2 separate regions of the Homo sapiens genome follow, and region 1 is linked to region 2. A link means that fine-mapping ties the variant in region 2 to the expression of a gene that starts in the linked region. Tissue or cell type: monocytes after LPS. Region 2 holds a variant in brackets; the other region holds the start of a gene. All regions are shown on one strand. Distances are between the middles of the regions.

Evidence for each region. PIP is the estimated chance that this variant, and not a neighbour inherited with it, causes the effect.
Region 1: it holds the start of GLIS3, and the variant in region 2 is fine-mapped to the expression of GLIS3 in monocytes after LPS (Fairfax 2014, PIP 0.95).

The regions. Positions count from the first base shown.
Region 1 is chr9:4,296,586-4,304,585 of GRCh38, reverse strand. It overlaps GLIS3 (GLIS family zinc finger 3), which reads left to right and starts at 4,518. Exons shown (of 11, transcript NM_001042413.2): 1 at 4,518-5,165. GLIS3-AS2 (GLIS3 antisense RNA 2) reads right to left here and starts at 5,285. Exons shown (of 4, transcript NR_186824.1): 1 at 5,163-5,285. RefSeq lists an enhancer at 7,223-7,517.
Region 2 is chr9:4,143,902-4,152,114 of GRCh38, reverse strand. The region is part of intron 2 of GLIS3 (GLIS family zinc finger 3); the gene reads left to right. Among named protein-coding and RNA genes, the nearest start is that of GLIS3-AS2, 150 kb to the left of the region's middle. The variant C/G (reference allele first, on the strand shown) is at 3,398.

The DNA.
Region 1 (8,000 bases), 150 kb before region 2:
TTTTCTTCCCTTTTCTCCCCATTATTTAGTATATATTTTTATTTTGAGGCTAGAATTCAGGGTATGATGCAACTGACCTGGTTTAGTAGTGGGTGTCAGACAGGAGAGGGTCACTGGAGCAGGGCGCAGACAGGCTCTCCTCCTTATTCTAAGCATTGCATAAAGTCTTTGAATTTTCTTCCTCAAGAAATAGGAAGCAATATTTAAATCTTCAGTTTATAATAAAAAGCCTAGGGGTACAGAAAGCTACTTCATATCACATTGTAGGAAATTATTCCTGCCTCCTTCACACTCCCTACACACTAACTGTGCTCATCTGACATTGATAACAAGACGCCTTGTACTTTGTATACTTGCAGTGTGGTTTGCACACATTCAAAGAGCATCTGTTAGTCTCTTTTGGAACACTGAAATGATTATACACATACATAACAATGAGTTGTGTCATTTATCATCTCTGAAGGTGAAGAAACCATTCTTTCATTCTCTCATTAATTAATCCATTTATCAGATTAGCATTAGTTACTTACTAGTGCCCAGTACTATTGCTAGGCCATGAAAGGCATATGAAGAAAAGTAAGTTATGGTCATTAAGAGGCATTTATAGAAGGTAGTTATAGATAAGATGGCATTGTGATTAGATAATTAATTTTACAACATCACATATAGTTGGCCAGTATAGATGTTAAATGGTGAAAGAATAACTGGCTGCCTGCGGAATATTGTATTTATCTATGAATTTATGTTTGTTATGGTAAGCTCTTTGTAGATATACCTAAGTAATATGTCAAGGAATACATCATCAACCTTTCTCTGAATTTTAGATACATCTCAGCTTGGTTTGTATAAAAAAGGAAGAAACATTTCACCAATTAGACAAGATTGAGAGATATTGTATGGAGTGAAATATTTGAAATTTTGGTCAGTTGCATTTGGTCTGACACATTTTAGACTCTGATTTACAGTTTTGACTTTAGAAAGGAAAAGAGGTATGATGTTGTGAATGCGATATGTGTAAATAAGAATTTTTTAAAAAATTACATCACTGACATGTATGTGAGCCGAAGAGTTTGGGCTGAACATACTTGTGACAAATTAGTAGAAAAATCAGCTTAAGTTTTCTTAGTATATCACACACTGATAACATAATGTGAAATTTGCTGCATTCCACTATTTGTACTACTCAGGAAAGTAAAATGGAAATTTTCCATTTTACACATTTAGTTCCCCCCTTAAAGTTGGCAAACACTAACTTTTTCCACTGCATTTCTACGTAACTGGACTGTTGCCAGCTCGTGTGTGTGTGTGTGTGTGTGTCTGTGTTTTAATAGCTAGGCATACTATCACTGGTGCTATTAGCTCAACTTATCTGTATTTTGGGGTTCAAATTTGTTTCTTTTCACGGACACTTTGTGGGAGGAGGAATCTGATCATAGTTCTTTGCAAGTTTGTAAGTGGTTTACTGTCAGAGCACTCAGGGTGACTCAAATAGCAGTTCTGAAGTTTTGCTGTCAGGATGTTCCTTCGGGAGAGTTTCATTGCTGTGAGACAGTGGATGTTCCTATTTTGTACTCTAGCTTTGAGTGAGCTGCTTGCTATGCAGGACTTATGCCTTCTGTGCCCCTTTTGATGCTGATTCCTATACTTGAAATGGTCTCCTTTGCTTATCACTTCTCTACTCATTCTTTGAAGTCCAGCTCAAACAGCCAAGCTACTCCATGTCACATTGCAGGAAATTATTCCTGCCTCCTCCACACTCCCTACAAACTTCATTGTGCTCATCTAACACTGACCACAAGATGCTTTGCACTTTATACACCTGCAATATGTTTTATACACATTCAAAGAGCATGCACAATTATTCTGTAGTACAGTAATGTTGATTGAACTTGGGGCTTCTAAACTGGCATACTTGGCTCTGTCTCTGACTCTCTTTAACTGTTTACTGAGCTTCAACTTCTTTGCTTCTAAGTAGGAGATTATTCATAGCCACATCATACATTTGATTTGAGAATTAGATGAGGTAATATATGCAAAGAGTCCCCATTTCTTGAGGGTTTGCTACAACTAAGACACTGGGCAAAAAGTTTTCTGTAATATCCTCCCATATACAATGCCTACAAGTGTTAATTCCTTTAGTCCCAATACTTGGACAGAGTGTGTACTCACTGAATATTTCTCTGATGAATGAGAACTGGACTGGAGCTGGCAGCAGGGGCCTGTCTGCTGAGTCAGCTGCCCTGAGTCAGCGGTTGAGGCACATACAACACTGGTCTCTAGAGAGGGAAGATACTGACTGGGCTGCAGTTCCCACCTATCTGGCTGAAGGGCTGCCAGAGTATGATTCCTAAGCACGATGGAGAGCTCATGGGTAAGGGAGAGTATCATTTTGGAACTACATGATTTCCTTTCTCACTGTCTCTCATTACCACCCTCCCTCACCCCTGCTGACCAATTCAGCCCAGAAGAGGTACAGATCTCATTCTGAGTCATTCCAGGGTTGTACTGGTACAAGAACAACTGCATTTTTACTATAACCCATGGAATATAAGAACATTGCAGATCTACATTCTTGGCCAGAAAAAAAAAAAAAGAAAAAAATTCAACCAAAGCACTATACCTCTTCAGTGGTAAATATTTTAGGAATGTTAGAGGTTCATGAAAATCACACCTAAATAAAATGACATTCCCACTCTTGGGCTCTTATAAATGAAGAGATTTTGGGGATCTCCAGGTTGATGACTCCTAACTTTCCCAGTGTTTTTTTCCATGAGCTATTGATTAAAGTTGGGTGTAGCACTATATTTTTTTCTCTTCCAGCTAAGCTGTTCCCATCATTTGGGAAGTTTTAGAAGCTTCTGCAAGCCCCTAGGATACCATTCTATGCATCAAAACCATTGTATTTAAAATGATATTTGAGGGACATTGGAAAGGTTTTTTGCAGTCTCCACCCAGGCTTGTCTTGCTCCTGGGAAGCAGTTGTACAGCACAAGAATCTGATGAACAGAAGTTCCCATGATGCATTGAAGGGTTAGTGTTGCCATCTTGCTCTGTTCCTTAAGGCTGGAGTTAATGAGGAAGAGTTTTTATGTGAATGTCAGGCATGTTGCAATAACTAGCCACAATGGAATAGTCATGGCAATTTCCACCACTTGGTTTCTTTGTTTTTGTGATGTTGCTGCATGCTTCATTTTATGAGTATTTTCTTTTCTTACGTGTGGTTGAGCCCATCTATTGCCATCTTGGGCTTGAATACTTGTATTTAAAAGAGATGAACAGAGAGAAACTGGAAAACTGACAGAATGACATATCCTGACCTCTTACTATTTTTCATCCCCTACTTCTGCTGACAAATATTCTGATGAGTTTGTGTCCCAAGGTGAAGGAAAAGAAAAGAAAAAGTACTGTGGAAACCAGGCTTCTTTTGGTTATGTTAATATCATGGATACAGACCAAGCCTAGTAGTATTCCCACTGAAATTAGATAAATGAAAACTGCCAATAGTCTTTTAGTTTTGGCTTTCTGGGGTAAGTCATTTGTGTCCTTGAGGACTTCTGTCTTGATCAAAGCATCTACTACCTGATTGCTAATTTATATTGGAGTGGTAACAGTAGAATAGAATATAAGGACTTGTGAAATTCTAAGTGTCTGGTGGCATCCTCACTCATTTCATTCATGATGGTGAATAATACTGTCAACTGCAGAAAGGCCTACCTGGAGGATATTGTGTGCATTACATACCTAGATTCCCAAGATGGAAGTCCTTGCATCTGTGGCAATACATGTGATGAACTACTAGGAGCAGACTTTCTTGTAACAACCTTTTGAGGGCTCTGGTCAACACAAGCAGAAGCGGTGGCGAGTCAGAGCTTAGGTGGGGTATGAGGCTGAGGATGTTGAATTCATAAGGATAAAGTGCCACTTTATAGACGTAACATACGCAGGGAATATACCTCCATTCTTAACAGCCTGTGTTCAGAATTTTATACCCTTCTAACACTTCCATCACCTTCCTCTCTTCCCTGCCTATACTTGGAAAGGATGCCAAAGCCTTCCTTAGTGCTTCACCTATCCAGTTTCGAAGCTGTCATGTGCATCCGATCCGATATTTCAAAGCAACCCTTTTGCCATTTTTCACTGTGTTATTCTCTCCGTATTACTACCGGATTTTTTTGGTTGTTTGTTTATTTTTTTATGACCTGACATCAAATCCTGTCTAAACACTAACACTTTTTCATGTTAAAATAAGTCAGTTTAACAAATAAGGCCAGGAAGAAGGCGAAGTGTCTCCCTGCTGTTACCCTGTTCTGGAGTTCCTCGACTTCTGGCGCACGGGGAGTGTGTGTGTGTGTGTGTGTGTGTGTGTGTGTGTGTGTGAATGCGTCAAGAGGGAGACACAAGCTCGGCCTTCGAATTGGCCAGCCTAGTGACCCGCGAGCCCGCCCCCACTCTTCCCCCTCCCCCTCCGGCGCTCACACTCAGGAAGCAGCTGGCTACAGGCCGGCCCTCGCGGCCGCACACACATCCACACTCCTCGCCCGGCTGCCTTCCTCCCTCCCTCTTCCCCCTTCCCCTCTCCCTGCAGCCGCGTCCACACTGCGCCGCCCGGGCAGCCCAGAGCGCGGCGCGCACGGGCACCGGCGGCGAGTGCCGCGGCCACTGCCCCTCCCGGGACCCCCTGTACGCCGTCCGCGCCGTCCAGGGTCACACCGGCGACGGAACCCGCCGGCAGCAATTAGCCAGCATCCCGGGGTCGGCCCCCAGAAGCATTCCCCGGCCCAGGACGAGGATGAACAGGACAGGCGAGGCACAAAGTCGCAACTGAACTTTTTAGAAACATTATTTGTGTGTGTATGTGTGTAGCAGGGGAGAATGAGCTGATGCCGAGGGTCCAGCCACCCCGCCTCTGCCTCCTCCTCCCCCTGCCGCCGCTGCCCTCGCAGACGCGCGCGCACACACGGCACTTGGGCCGGGTTTCCGCGCTCCGTCCCCCCGTTTGGATGGGGGTTTTCATTTCCGAAGGAGGCACAGCCCGCGGAGCGCTCTGAAGGGCTGGAGCCCCAAGTTACTCCTCGCCAGCGCCGGCCGCCCGCTGTCACTCGCGCTGGCCGGCCGGGGGAAGGGACCCGCACGCCGGGCTTTGTTGTGGAAATCCCGGTTACCTGGTAAGTGGATGCCATAGGAACTTTGCTCGCAGGCGAGAGACGAGGAGAAACCGGGCGCTTGAGAGTGTGGGGGAGTTAAAGCTCAGAGACGCAAACTAGGGATTACAAATAGTTTTCTACGCTGAGCCGGTGGCGTTCGCGCGGGTTTAAGGATACGCGCACCTCAACTCCCGGCGTCACAGGTCACTGAGAGACCTGCGCTGACTGAGACTGATAGCAACAATTAGGGTTCAAACCATGTTTCTGTCAGTGGCCTAAGAGCGCCCAGTGTAGAAGACAGATAACGGGGCTTTAAAGTTGCGCTAATTCGGAACAGTTTTTGTGTTTTCATTTCAAGTAGAGCGGGCAGAGGGGTACACAATCAGGGCACGTTACAGGACGCACGGGCATGGGGCGCACCACTCTGGAGTCCCCACTGAAGGGAAACTTTGGCGAAGTGGGAACTGATGGGGTGACGTGAGGTCTCTCGCGCACACGCGGGGCTGTAGTTGTCTTTTCAAGTTCCACGTGTTTGTGGAGTTTCACGAAGGCTGTTTTCCACGCCTGTGTCTCATCCAAGCCGGTGTCCCCATGATTGCGGGAGGTGGTCGGGCTGAGGGTACCTACACTCCTCGCGGGTACCGGCCCGGCGATCCGCAGCCGCCAGGTCTGGAACTATAACCTCCCACGCCGCCAGGACGCAGACACAGCCAGACACGAACCCTCCCCGCCGGGTTCGTCACCTCGCGTTTACATTTTTTATGGGGCCCGACAAAATGTCAGCACTGTTTGGAAAATGTCTCAGTCTCGGAGACGTTGTCCTGCGCGCGGCTCCAGTCCCTATAAATGACCCTGTGTGTATTTTGAAGTCGGCCCGGGTCGCTCTCTGGAAAGCGTGAGTGAGCCGCCGGCTCTCTCCTAGACACACACCTTGCCCCGAGCGACAGTTCCAAGTTACTCACTGGAGCTGACAAGTCACCTCGGGGACCGGGAAGTCACTCAAGTGTCTGGAAATCTTGGCCCTGGCTGATTTGTCATCCTATGGATGATTCAATTAGGTACCTGGCGGGAGAAACTTTGGGGAAGGGTTTCTGGCTCCGCGTTCGCGCCCTCCGACTTGCTGGAGGTGTTTGGGAGGCGAGAAGCGAAAGGAAACCACAGGGTGAGGACACTGGCTCGGCGGGGACCGGGGGGCCGGCGTGGGGGGACTGCGAGCCCGGCCGTGGCGCCCCCGGGCTACAGGCTCCGGCCAGGCCGGGCAGCGCGCGCAGGTCCCCGGCGCCCGGGCTTCCCAGCCGCAGCACCCTTTCGGCCCCCGACTCACTCAGGAGCGAGTTGCACAACAGGAAGCCGGCACTAGTTTGTTTTGTTGCGCTGCGTTCGCTCCCTCGCTCGCTCGCGCACGGGGCCGAGGGTTAGGGGCGGAGGCGGCGGGGGAGTGACGGGGTCGCAGCCGCGCGTACCCCGCCGGGCGCTGTCGCCTCCGCCTCCGGACCCGCCCCTAGCTCCGCGCCGAGGAATCTCCGACCCCGGCAGCGAAGCCAGTCCTATAGGGAACCGATAAGGGCCGCCCTCCTCCTGCCTTGTCCTACGCGCCTCTCCCCCGCTCCCGGCACCTCTCCCGACTTCTCCAGCCCTCCTCTTGGCAGGAGTGGTCTCGAGGACTGAGACCACTGCTCTGTGTGCCTCCTTGAGCCCCACGCTAGTTTGCCCCGGTATCCGCTTGGCCCTCATCTCTGGAGCATGTAAACCTGGGGAAGGGGTAGGGAGGTGCTTCCGGAATCACAGGGAGTAGGGTCCGTAGAGACAGGACTCGTGGAGTCGCGGCCCCGTTTCACAAAGAGGGTTGCTCTTGCACCCTCTCCCCGAGCCGGCAGAACCAACTTCCTCCAAGACTTCAGCATCTCCCGAGAGTTGGGGCCCCAGGGCCCTGGAGTTTGTGAGAAGAGGGAAGTTCTGCAGCTCCCCCCAGTGGACCAGGTCCCTTTAGTATGGGGCCGGGAATCTCGAGGAGAGACTATTAAAGCTAGAGTGGACCCTGGCTTCACCTGATGAGGAAACCGAGCCCCAGAGACGTTAGAGGTTTTGCCCAAGGCCTCACAGCCAGTTGTCGCAGACCCTTAAAGTTCTCAGGTCCCGGTTAAGAGAGCATTTCTTGGCTCGAAGATGACCTCAAGACAAATGCAAAGTCTGGTTCTGTCCCCTCTGAAAGCTTTGATGAGTCATGATTTCTGCCTTGGGAGTAAGCCAGACTTCTGTTTCACCCTCTGTCTTGTTCCTCACTGGACCTCCCTTTTTAGACTAAACTTTTTTTTTTTTTTGGGTACAAAATCGACTTGTGTTGGTTTAAACCTTCCTACTTCTTCTCTTTTATCTCCTCCTAGTTTGTTTCCGCTGGTTCTGTGTGAAGCAGGTGCAACCTGTAAAGGTTTGCAGAAAAAGAATCCGCCACGATGAAGGTCGTTCTGAGAAAGTTTGAAGCAATTTAGACAGGAGAGTGTTAGATTATATGCATTTTTTTTTTTTTTTTTTTTTTTTGCAATTGAGAACAAGCTGAGGTGTAAGGATCATCTATAACCGTACTGCAGTTTTCATTTATTTTCACTGGTCATCTGCGCAGCCAGACTAGCTCTGAGGCTACCTTTGAAAGGAAGTGTAGGGGACATTTTTTTTTCGCTATTTTCAAAACACCTGTCCTTATTGGTAGTTTGTAATTGCTTTCTTTTCTTGCCCAGAAGACTCAGTAATCCTTGAGTATGAGTAGATCAATTTAAGTGCTGCTGTTAACTTCTCCCCTTGGTTCACCTTAGGCCAGTTTGGGGACAGCATCGTTGATCCCCTGATTCCACTGAAGTT
Region 2 (8,213 bases):
GGTTTGAATGGCCGTAGAAAAATATTGTGTTACTTGTTTGTTGTCTAGGTGAGATATGAGACTGGGAGGGTTTGAGGTTCTGGTTTTTTCATACAAGACCTGTGCAAACTGGAGATCCCATAAATATTTGTTGAATAACATTGAATTTTACGTGATGTTTTTATGTCTTCTCATTCTTTTTTATGAGAGTCCTTTGGGTAAGAGTTGAGCCCAAGGAGGACTGAGGGTCTCAACCTCAAATGCCCTTCATTCTGTCGCCTTCCAAAGGTTCTCTCCTGCTGTGGAAGGTATGAGTATGTTTAACTAGGAACAGATGATTATTATGCTTCATTACCAGGCATGGTCTCTGTGCCACAGGACTCTATCCAAACTCATAGACATAATGAAGAGCGCTTTCATTGTTTAGGACTCCTGAAGGCAGATTTTTTCCTTAGAACAAAGATGAAGAAAGGCCACAATCCAAAGAAATCCCCTCAGTGCAAAACTGTGAACTGGACAATTGTTCTGCAGTTATTTTGCCAAGAAATAATAGCCTTAGAGCCCCACTTACTGCTTGTAAACTTTCTTTGAGAAGAGAATCTTTAAAAAAATTATGCTGTCAAGTTCCATATGCTTAAATTAGACTTTCCCCCTTTCTAAGCAAGGTGCTTGCTCTCCCTGAGCAGTCTGAATGTTGGTTCAGTGGCAGATTTACATTTGGTGGATGAATAAGCAGGCACTAGTTCTAATAAAACCTGTGGTTTAGCTGTGTTTCTGCTAAAACATATAGTTTGAGGAGATAGAGGCAAACTCAAACTGAACCTCTTTTTAAAAATGTAACAATCTGATTTCTTTTTTCTCCTGAAGAGTCATACATTTTGTCTGATCTGGGAGAATGCAGGCTTTTGTATCTTCTAGGCTCAAAGACACTTGGAAGAGAGAAGTCTCTGGTGGCGTTTTCAGATTCAACCTGTGGACTGAAACAGAGTCGATCTCTAGGCACAGTTGTTAAGTAGGCATCTCTATGTCGCTTTTCATCCTGATCTCCTCCTCTGTGCTTACCCCTTTTTTTCCTTCAGCTCTTCATCTCTTCATGGACGCTCCTGTCCCCAACCCAATGCTCATTGTGTAGGAGTCGATCATCTGCCATCTTCACTCTATTTTGAAGGCAAAAGACATTTTTAACTGCCTCAGAGGTATTTGCATCATTAAGCACCATTTATAACTGACAGCCCCAAAAAAGTAGTAGGATACATTAGAAAGTGGGTTTAGTTGGGTGCCCAAGTACTTGGATTTTTGTCCTGATGCTGCCATTAACTAGCTGTGTGACCGGGTGAAAGTCACTTTACATCTCTGGACTTGAATTTTACAATTTATAAAATAAGGAGGTTGGACACATGATTTCTAATCTTCCTTCTTGGCATCTAAATCTATGAATTCAAAGCATGGTGGGGGCAGAGATACATCTTTTTCTTATGAGGGAAACCCTTGAAATTGTTTCATCATCTATTCTGGTTTAAAGATAGTCTTTTAAGATATGAGAGAGTAAAGGTTTTCTGATGTGATTTGCAGATGGGAAGAGGAATCGATATTTTCTGAGCATTTGGTTTGTGCCAGGCTGTGTGCTAGATGGTATGTGATCTTACCAGGCTGAATGTGGTGATTTGGCTGAGCTTGCCACAGACTGAACTTGGCCTCCTGGCCTGCGACTTTGCCCTGGCATAGATTCCTCTTGCCTCCATATGGCTGGCCCCATCTACCTACAAATTTACGTTTTCCTCCTCCTTATGTGAATATTTTTATTGGTTAGTAAAAGCAGAGGACAGTCAGTGGCTGGTTGGACTCTGCTTTTAGGTCAGTCCAGTTGTGTAAGATCAAAGTTTGGGCTACTGAGGCAGAATTTTAGAAAAGACCCCCTTTCAGCTTTATTTTTGTTGTTTTTAAGGTAGGTTGGTTTCTAGTAGAAAGGGGCCCTATAAAAGCTTTGGGTCTGTATGGGAGGTTGCTTCTCTGGGGAAGCTCTTCTTTACCTTTTATTGTACCAGATTCACTGTGAAATTATCTTTGTGCTCATCTGTGTGTGTGTGTTTATGTGTGCATGCGTGCACCCGCACGTGCATTATGTTCTTATATTCCTAACATATATCCGTATGAACTGTGCGCATTCAAGACTCTTCGTGAATAAAAAGTTAGTAAATCCCTTTTGTAGTAAGATATATGCAAGTGCAGATAAGATACTTCATATCTTGTTTCTAAATATCACCATCATTATCATCATCGTCATCTCCTTCTCTGTGTCTCAGTAGCTTTTTTATCCTACCTTATTTTACCAGACATTATTTTGTGCTGTGATTCTCTTGATCTCTGTTTCACCTGCTCCTACCATGCAGTTTTTAACTCCTGAATGAGTGAGATAACAAATGAATTTCATGTTATGCATCAAAAATTCCTGAAAGTAAAAGGGGTTATGTAATAGACACTTAACCACTGCTTTAAAGGTTAGACTAGTGTCATCTATTTGTACTTGCATGCCTGACACCATTTATGGTACCTACACAGAATAAATTAAGGTGTCATGCCTGACTATTGCTTATATATGGAAACCAAGAGGTTGGAGGCTCCGCGTGAGTGTGAGTTCCAGCTTTGGGAGAAGAATGACAATTGTCCTGTGTTCTCTCCATCTAGGAGTATTTGTCCAGTTATGTGGGAGGTGATGGTTAAGGGAATATGAATGAACTCATAGCCATCTGTGTGTGTTTTTTGAGTTGGGCTAGCTGGGGTTTGAATACTCACTCTTAGCAGGTTAATATGGTCTTCAAGCCTTAGTTTTCCTCCCCTGTGAAATGGGATGGTAATAATCAAGGTTGTTGTGGGAGCTAAATGAGTTAATCTGGGAATAGAGCTAGGCATCCTCCTCTGGCACCAAGTAAGCCTTCCATTAAGCTTACTTTAACTTTCACTTCATTTTTAATGTATAGATGAATCACTATCATTATTATTCTTAGTAGCAGTAGTAGTAGCAGCTGTAATAGTACAAGTTCTTGGTGAGGAAGCATGATCACCATGTTGATAGCTAGGTAAACTCTGCACCTCCTTTGGAGTATTTGGAGAGGAGACAGAGGTTTGTTATAATCTTGTTTCCACGGAGGGCTTCATGGGAAAGGTGAGAAGTCAAACAGTTTGGAAAAGGTTCTGTTGATAGGGACGAGCTTTGTGTGCAGTGAGGTGTGGAGTCAGCCTGTGGAGGAGAGAGGAGAATGGGTTAGGAATGGCCAGGACAACAAAGTGGCAGCTCTGGCCACGTTACCCCCACTCCAGGCTTCTCAGCAATTTCTCTGTTTATTTTATTTTTATTTTTCCCCTTATTTTAAATTATACAATCCCACCCTCCTTGTAGCCCTCTCTCCACCTACCTGTG[C/G]AAAGAAGTTCTTTACTAAAACTTGCTACAGGTATGGTGTGGGCATTACCTGTTCATAGGCATTAGGAAGCTGAGGCCTAATATTCTGGGGTGATGGGTAGGGGTCCAGGTGGATTAGGTACAGTCCCTGTCCTCATGGGCCTGCCAGTTTAGGGGGAAAGGTGAGATATAGATACATGAGGTAGAATTGATCCACAGCACAAAAGACAAATGAATAACTATGTGGGAGTTTAGAGGAGGAATAGAGCACTGTAAACCTGGCATTGGAGGAAGGAATATGGAAGGTTTCTTTCAAGGAGGAGGTAGCATTTGAGCTGATCTTTGAGGATGGAAATATGGAGAGTATGGGGACGTGGGGATGTGGTGACCAGGGATTTCAGGCTGCCTGGAGTGGAGTATGTCTGAAAGAACCATAGTGGTGAATTCAGGCTGAAATCAAACTCCTGTGAGTGTAGCAAGGAAACCGATGTAGCCAGATCTCATCTAGAATCAGCAATAATTAGTAAGAGTTTTCCTGAAGCTATTTTTGCTATAATAAGAAAAAGGGGGGAGGGATTAAGAGCTCAAGCATTCCTGGTGTTCAAGTTAAATGTTAACTCCTTTGTGTAGTTAACCAGTAACTTACTCTTTCCTATGCAAAAGAAAAAAAAGGAGAGGGAGAAACATAATACAGTGGTAACCACCTCACTTCAAAAAATCCTGGTTTGCTAATGTGTTTGCTTATTTTCAACATAATACATACGTAGCTATTATAGAGATGTGTGCAAAATGAAACAGCCGACAGTAAGTTGACTTACCTTTGTGAATTCCCTGGATGTCTTCTGCAGGGTTTGCAGAGTTAGCTATTTTCAGACACATCCCTAGTTTAGCCATTAGAATGTTATAATTTTTTTTTTTTTTTTGGTATGAACTCAGCAAGTGAAACTTTGCTTCCAGAAAGGTGGGTGGGTGAGTTCACCCACCTGCTCTGACCCAGGCAAGTTAATGACCTGCCCAAGTATTGTTCGCGCTGGCCAGCGCTGGCTGACTTCACCAGCAGTTCCCCTTGAAGGGAGTCATTGTTTCTTACTCTGCATTTGTCAGATGCTTTCCTCTCTGCACTCCAGCCTTTGCTGAATGTCCTGGCAGTTCCTGAATGTTCCTGCTGCCTGCATTTTATAAAACCAAAGAGCAAGTAGCCCTGGAAATGTATGCCAAGTACTCTGCACAGCTGTCTGAGGCCCCCAGCCAAGGGCAAGATATAAACAATCTATACCCACACAGGTACACAAGCAGACACTGCATATGGAAGCCCCGCAGTGCAAGGACTTCTTACTTCTAACACTTTAAAATGTCAGTGGCCAAACAGCCTGAGAACATGAATAATTTAAGCATGAGATGCTTTTGCTGATGATTTTGATCATTTTTCAGGAAGAATAATGGTAAGAAATTTGTTAAGAAATTCCAAATTGAAATTCCATTATTGAAATTCCAATAATAGAATGGAGGTACGTGAAGGAAGAGGACTAGGAATTTTAGAATTTGTATTTGCTGTAAGAAATTAAAATATAGTATGACGTTGAACTTTCAGAACTTCTTAGGATATTGCCTGCATAATGTTCAATTTGGGGAAGAAATGAATGGCCAGAGGAGATTAATTGCAGTGGGCTTAAATTTCTAAATGTCAGGTGCTAGGTCAGGGTGGCTAGAAAATTAGAGGCATACGGTGAAATGCCTTTAATTTGGTATAAGATCTAGTGCATTTGACTCTAAAGATGCTTTGGGACAATCAAATTGAGAAATAATAGCAAGATAGTTTTTAAAAGTCGAACGTAATACTCTTCAGAATGAGTGTCAAATAAAATCCAGTACATTGGTTCTGGCCTGTTTTAAATGAATAGCTCTTGTAGCATCCTTCCTCTTTGCTGTGTTTATCTAGAGAACTGTTTAATTTTTATTAGTAGGCTAATTCTTGCATTAAAGACATAAATTGCATATTTAGGATGGAGAATAGGCGTTTGAGATGAAGTTTATTCAGGGTTCTGTCCCTACTGCTGAAAAATCTAATTCACTGCTGAGTGGATCGTAACTGCAGTTGCTAATTTAAAAATCAGTTCGCCAGATTCCAGTGACTTTGATAAGACTTTTATTCTTTTCAATCTTATGTATTTGTGAGCACATACTTGGGAAGATTGCTGCTGAGTAGTGTTGCATGTCAGAGATGAGGACAGTTTAGTCATTAACCCTAAATTGAGGGTAAAGACTGGCAATAGGCAGCCTGTGGAATGAGGAAAGGGCCAAGTTGAAATATTTCCAAAAGGTATTTTTGTTGTTTACCCTTGTTAATTATTAATACTAATTATTGATGAAAAATAGTTTTGAGTTACATGCCACACATTGTTTAGGAATAAATTATCAAATTTCTTATCTAGAACTATAGTAGATATTCAACGGTTTCAAATAATCGATATTTATTAAGTTAGTAAGGTGTCCCCCCTTCCTTCAACATTAAAGACACAAATCCATAAAGTTCTGGTGCATAAAGACTTTGTTTCATGAAAGTGCACTTTCCTCCCAGCTTTGGGTAGCTTCTTGCACTAAATGAATATGTTAAGAACTGAATTTGACAAAATCAGGTCAATAATTAAAAAGTATCTTTAGAACAAAGTACCTATCTCATGTAAGACATGTAGATAATATATAGGTTTTATAGGTTAAAATTGCCAAATTAGTTATGAATGTTGTGCTTTGTCTCAATTGTCCATGCCTTTTCAGATTTGTACTTTTTTGTCATGTTAGTTTCTTGGAAATGACCTTTTTAGGAATTTCTATATTTTGTAGTTTATCATACAGGCTTAAATGAAGTATATTGTTTAAATTCTACTGAGCGGGTATGCACTTCCCAGAGAAGATTACTCTCTCTGGGAGTCAGAACTGGCTGATACTAAAGGAGAGAGAGGGAGAGAAAGGGAGAAAGTGAGGGAGGGAGGGGGAACAAAGGGAGGAGGGAAGCTGGCAGGAAGAGAAGGGGAGGAAGGGAGAGGAAAGAGAGGGAAGTTTGAGATGTTAGGTCCCTCTGACAGAGGGCACTGATGTGACTTGGAGACTGCTCTCAGAGTCGGGCTGTAAAAGTCGGTGTTCATGCCTCTTAGGCATTATGGGCTTTTTGAATGTTATTAGATTCATTTTAGCCTCATTCTTAAGAACTGTGTGTTGCGATATCCTGTGGGCTTTGGTCATTTTTGGTTTTAGATCATGTTGTTCCAATCAATTGGTTGTACTATATGTATCACAGCAGTTGTGTGCAAAAGGTACTAGCCTTGGCAACCTAAAGATATGTTTGCTTATAGAAAATAACACACACAATTGAACCACCTTTGGGTGTAGTTTTTCATTTACCAGCGTGTTCTCCAGAGGTACCCTGTATTGATGTATTTTCCCAGTAGTGGGACGTTGTAGTATTGGCTTAAAAACCTTACCTAACAAGGAGTAAGTAGGCTGATCCTGGATCAGTTTATTTTCTCTGCCATCCCAAAGACTTGCCCACTGACCTCATCCATAGTGTGGTGTTTGGTCTATGAGCAGTTGATTCACCAGTTTTCAGAGCCCAAGTCTAAAATCACAGATCCTGTGGGGGATCTGGGAGCATCTGCCTTACCTTTATGAAGGTTATGGTCAGTTAAGCCTTGCTTTCAATGGGCTCACTTCGCTATGGGAAGAAAATTCTGCAGTTGTTAAAAACAAAAGGACACTGCCTTTTCCAAGGGAGCTGACAGCTATTGGTTTTTCCGGAGAGGATTACTGGTGAAGACAGTTATGAAGAACAAGTAACTCTTGTAAATAAACAGCATGTTCTTGCTTAAATATTTCCCAGAACAGTTCTAAAGAAATATAATACAGGTAAGTTTTGTTATGTTCTCATTGTGAGTTATGTTTACGAGAAGCAAAAAATAGGATTAGAATCATGGAGGAGGAAAAAAAGCCTTTTCATACCAGTGGCTTATGTTTTATTGAATTCTAACCATTTATAAAATTATCTGGTTTCTTGCCCCTACTCATGGTTGATTTTGTTTCTCTTTTTCCATCTAGAGACCTTTGAGTTATTTTTATTCATAAGTGAAAAATGTATTACAGCTTTATTTCCTTTTATTAATAGTTCCTTCTTGCCCTTAACCACATCTCTGACTTTTTGGCATGTAGAGTCCAATGAGCTCATGCTTAATCATGTATAAACAACCATCTAATTATATGGTTTTGAATTTTCATTTGACCGACTAAACAAAAATGACACAGAAACGAGAAACCTGACAACTTTCCTGTCTTCAGATACCTGGCCTTTTTTTCCCTCGCCCTCTCTTCATGCATTTAGTAAAATGCATGTTATAACCTATCAAAAAATATCACTTTGTATTTGCCAAGTTTCTGAGGTAAAATTGTTCTTTTCAAGGCTACGTGTCAAAAAACAAGTCGGTTGAGCTGAATTATCCGCCTTCTTTTCAGATCTCTTTCGGACTCTATTCTTTCCTCCTTTGGACGGAGGTGTTAGTAGCATTCCTTGCGCTGTGGTGTCAGATGACAGGACAGCATTTATGGAGCAAGGTTTCTCGATCTTTGTTCCCTTGCCTTCTCCCCTGAGGTCCAATAACAGCTCTCCCACTTGCCCTGTCGTCCCACCCTCCCCCAAACCATGCTGACACATTTTTGAAAGAAGATAATGGGAAAATCTTTCCATACTAAGGTGCTCACTATGTTTAAACAGGAAGGGAGACGTCGTCTATTCTCTTTTCTTTCTCACTGGCTTGATCCTAGAATTCTGAAGATGGTGGAAAATCTCTTT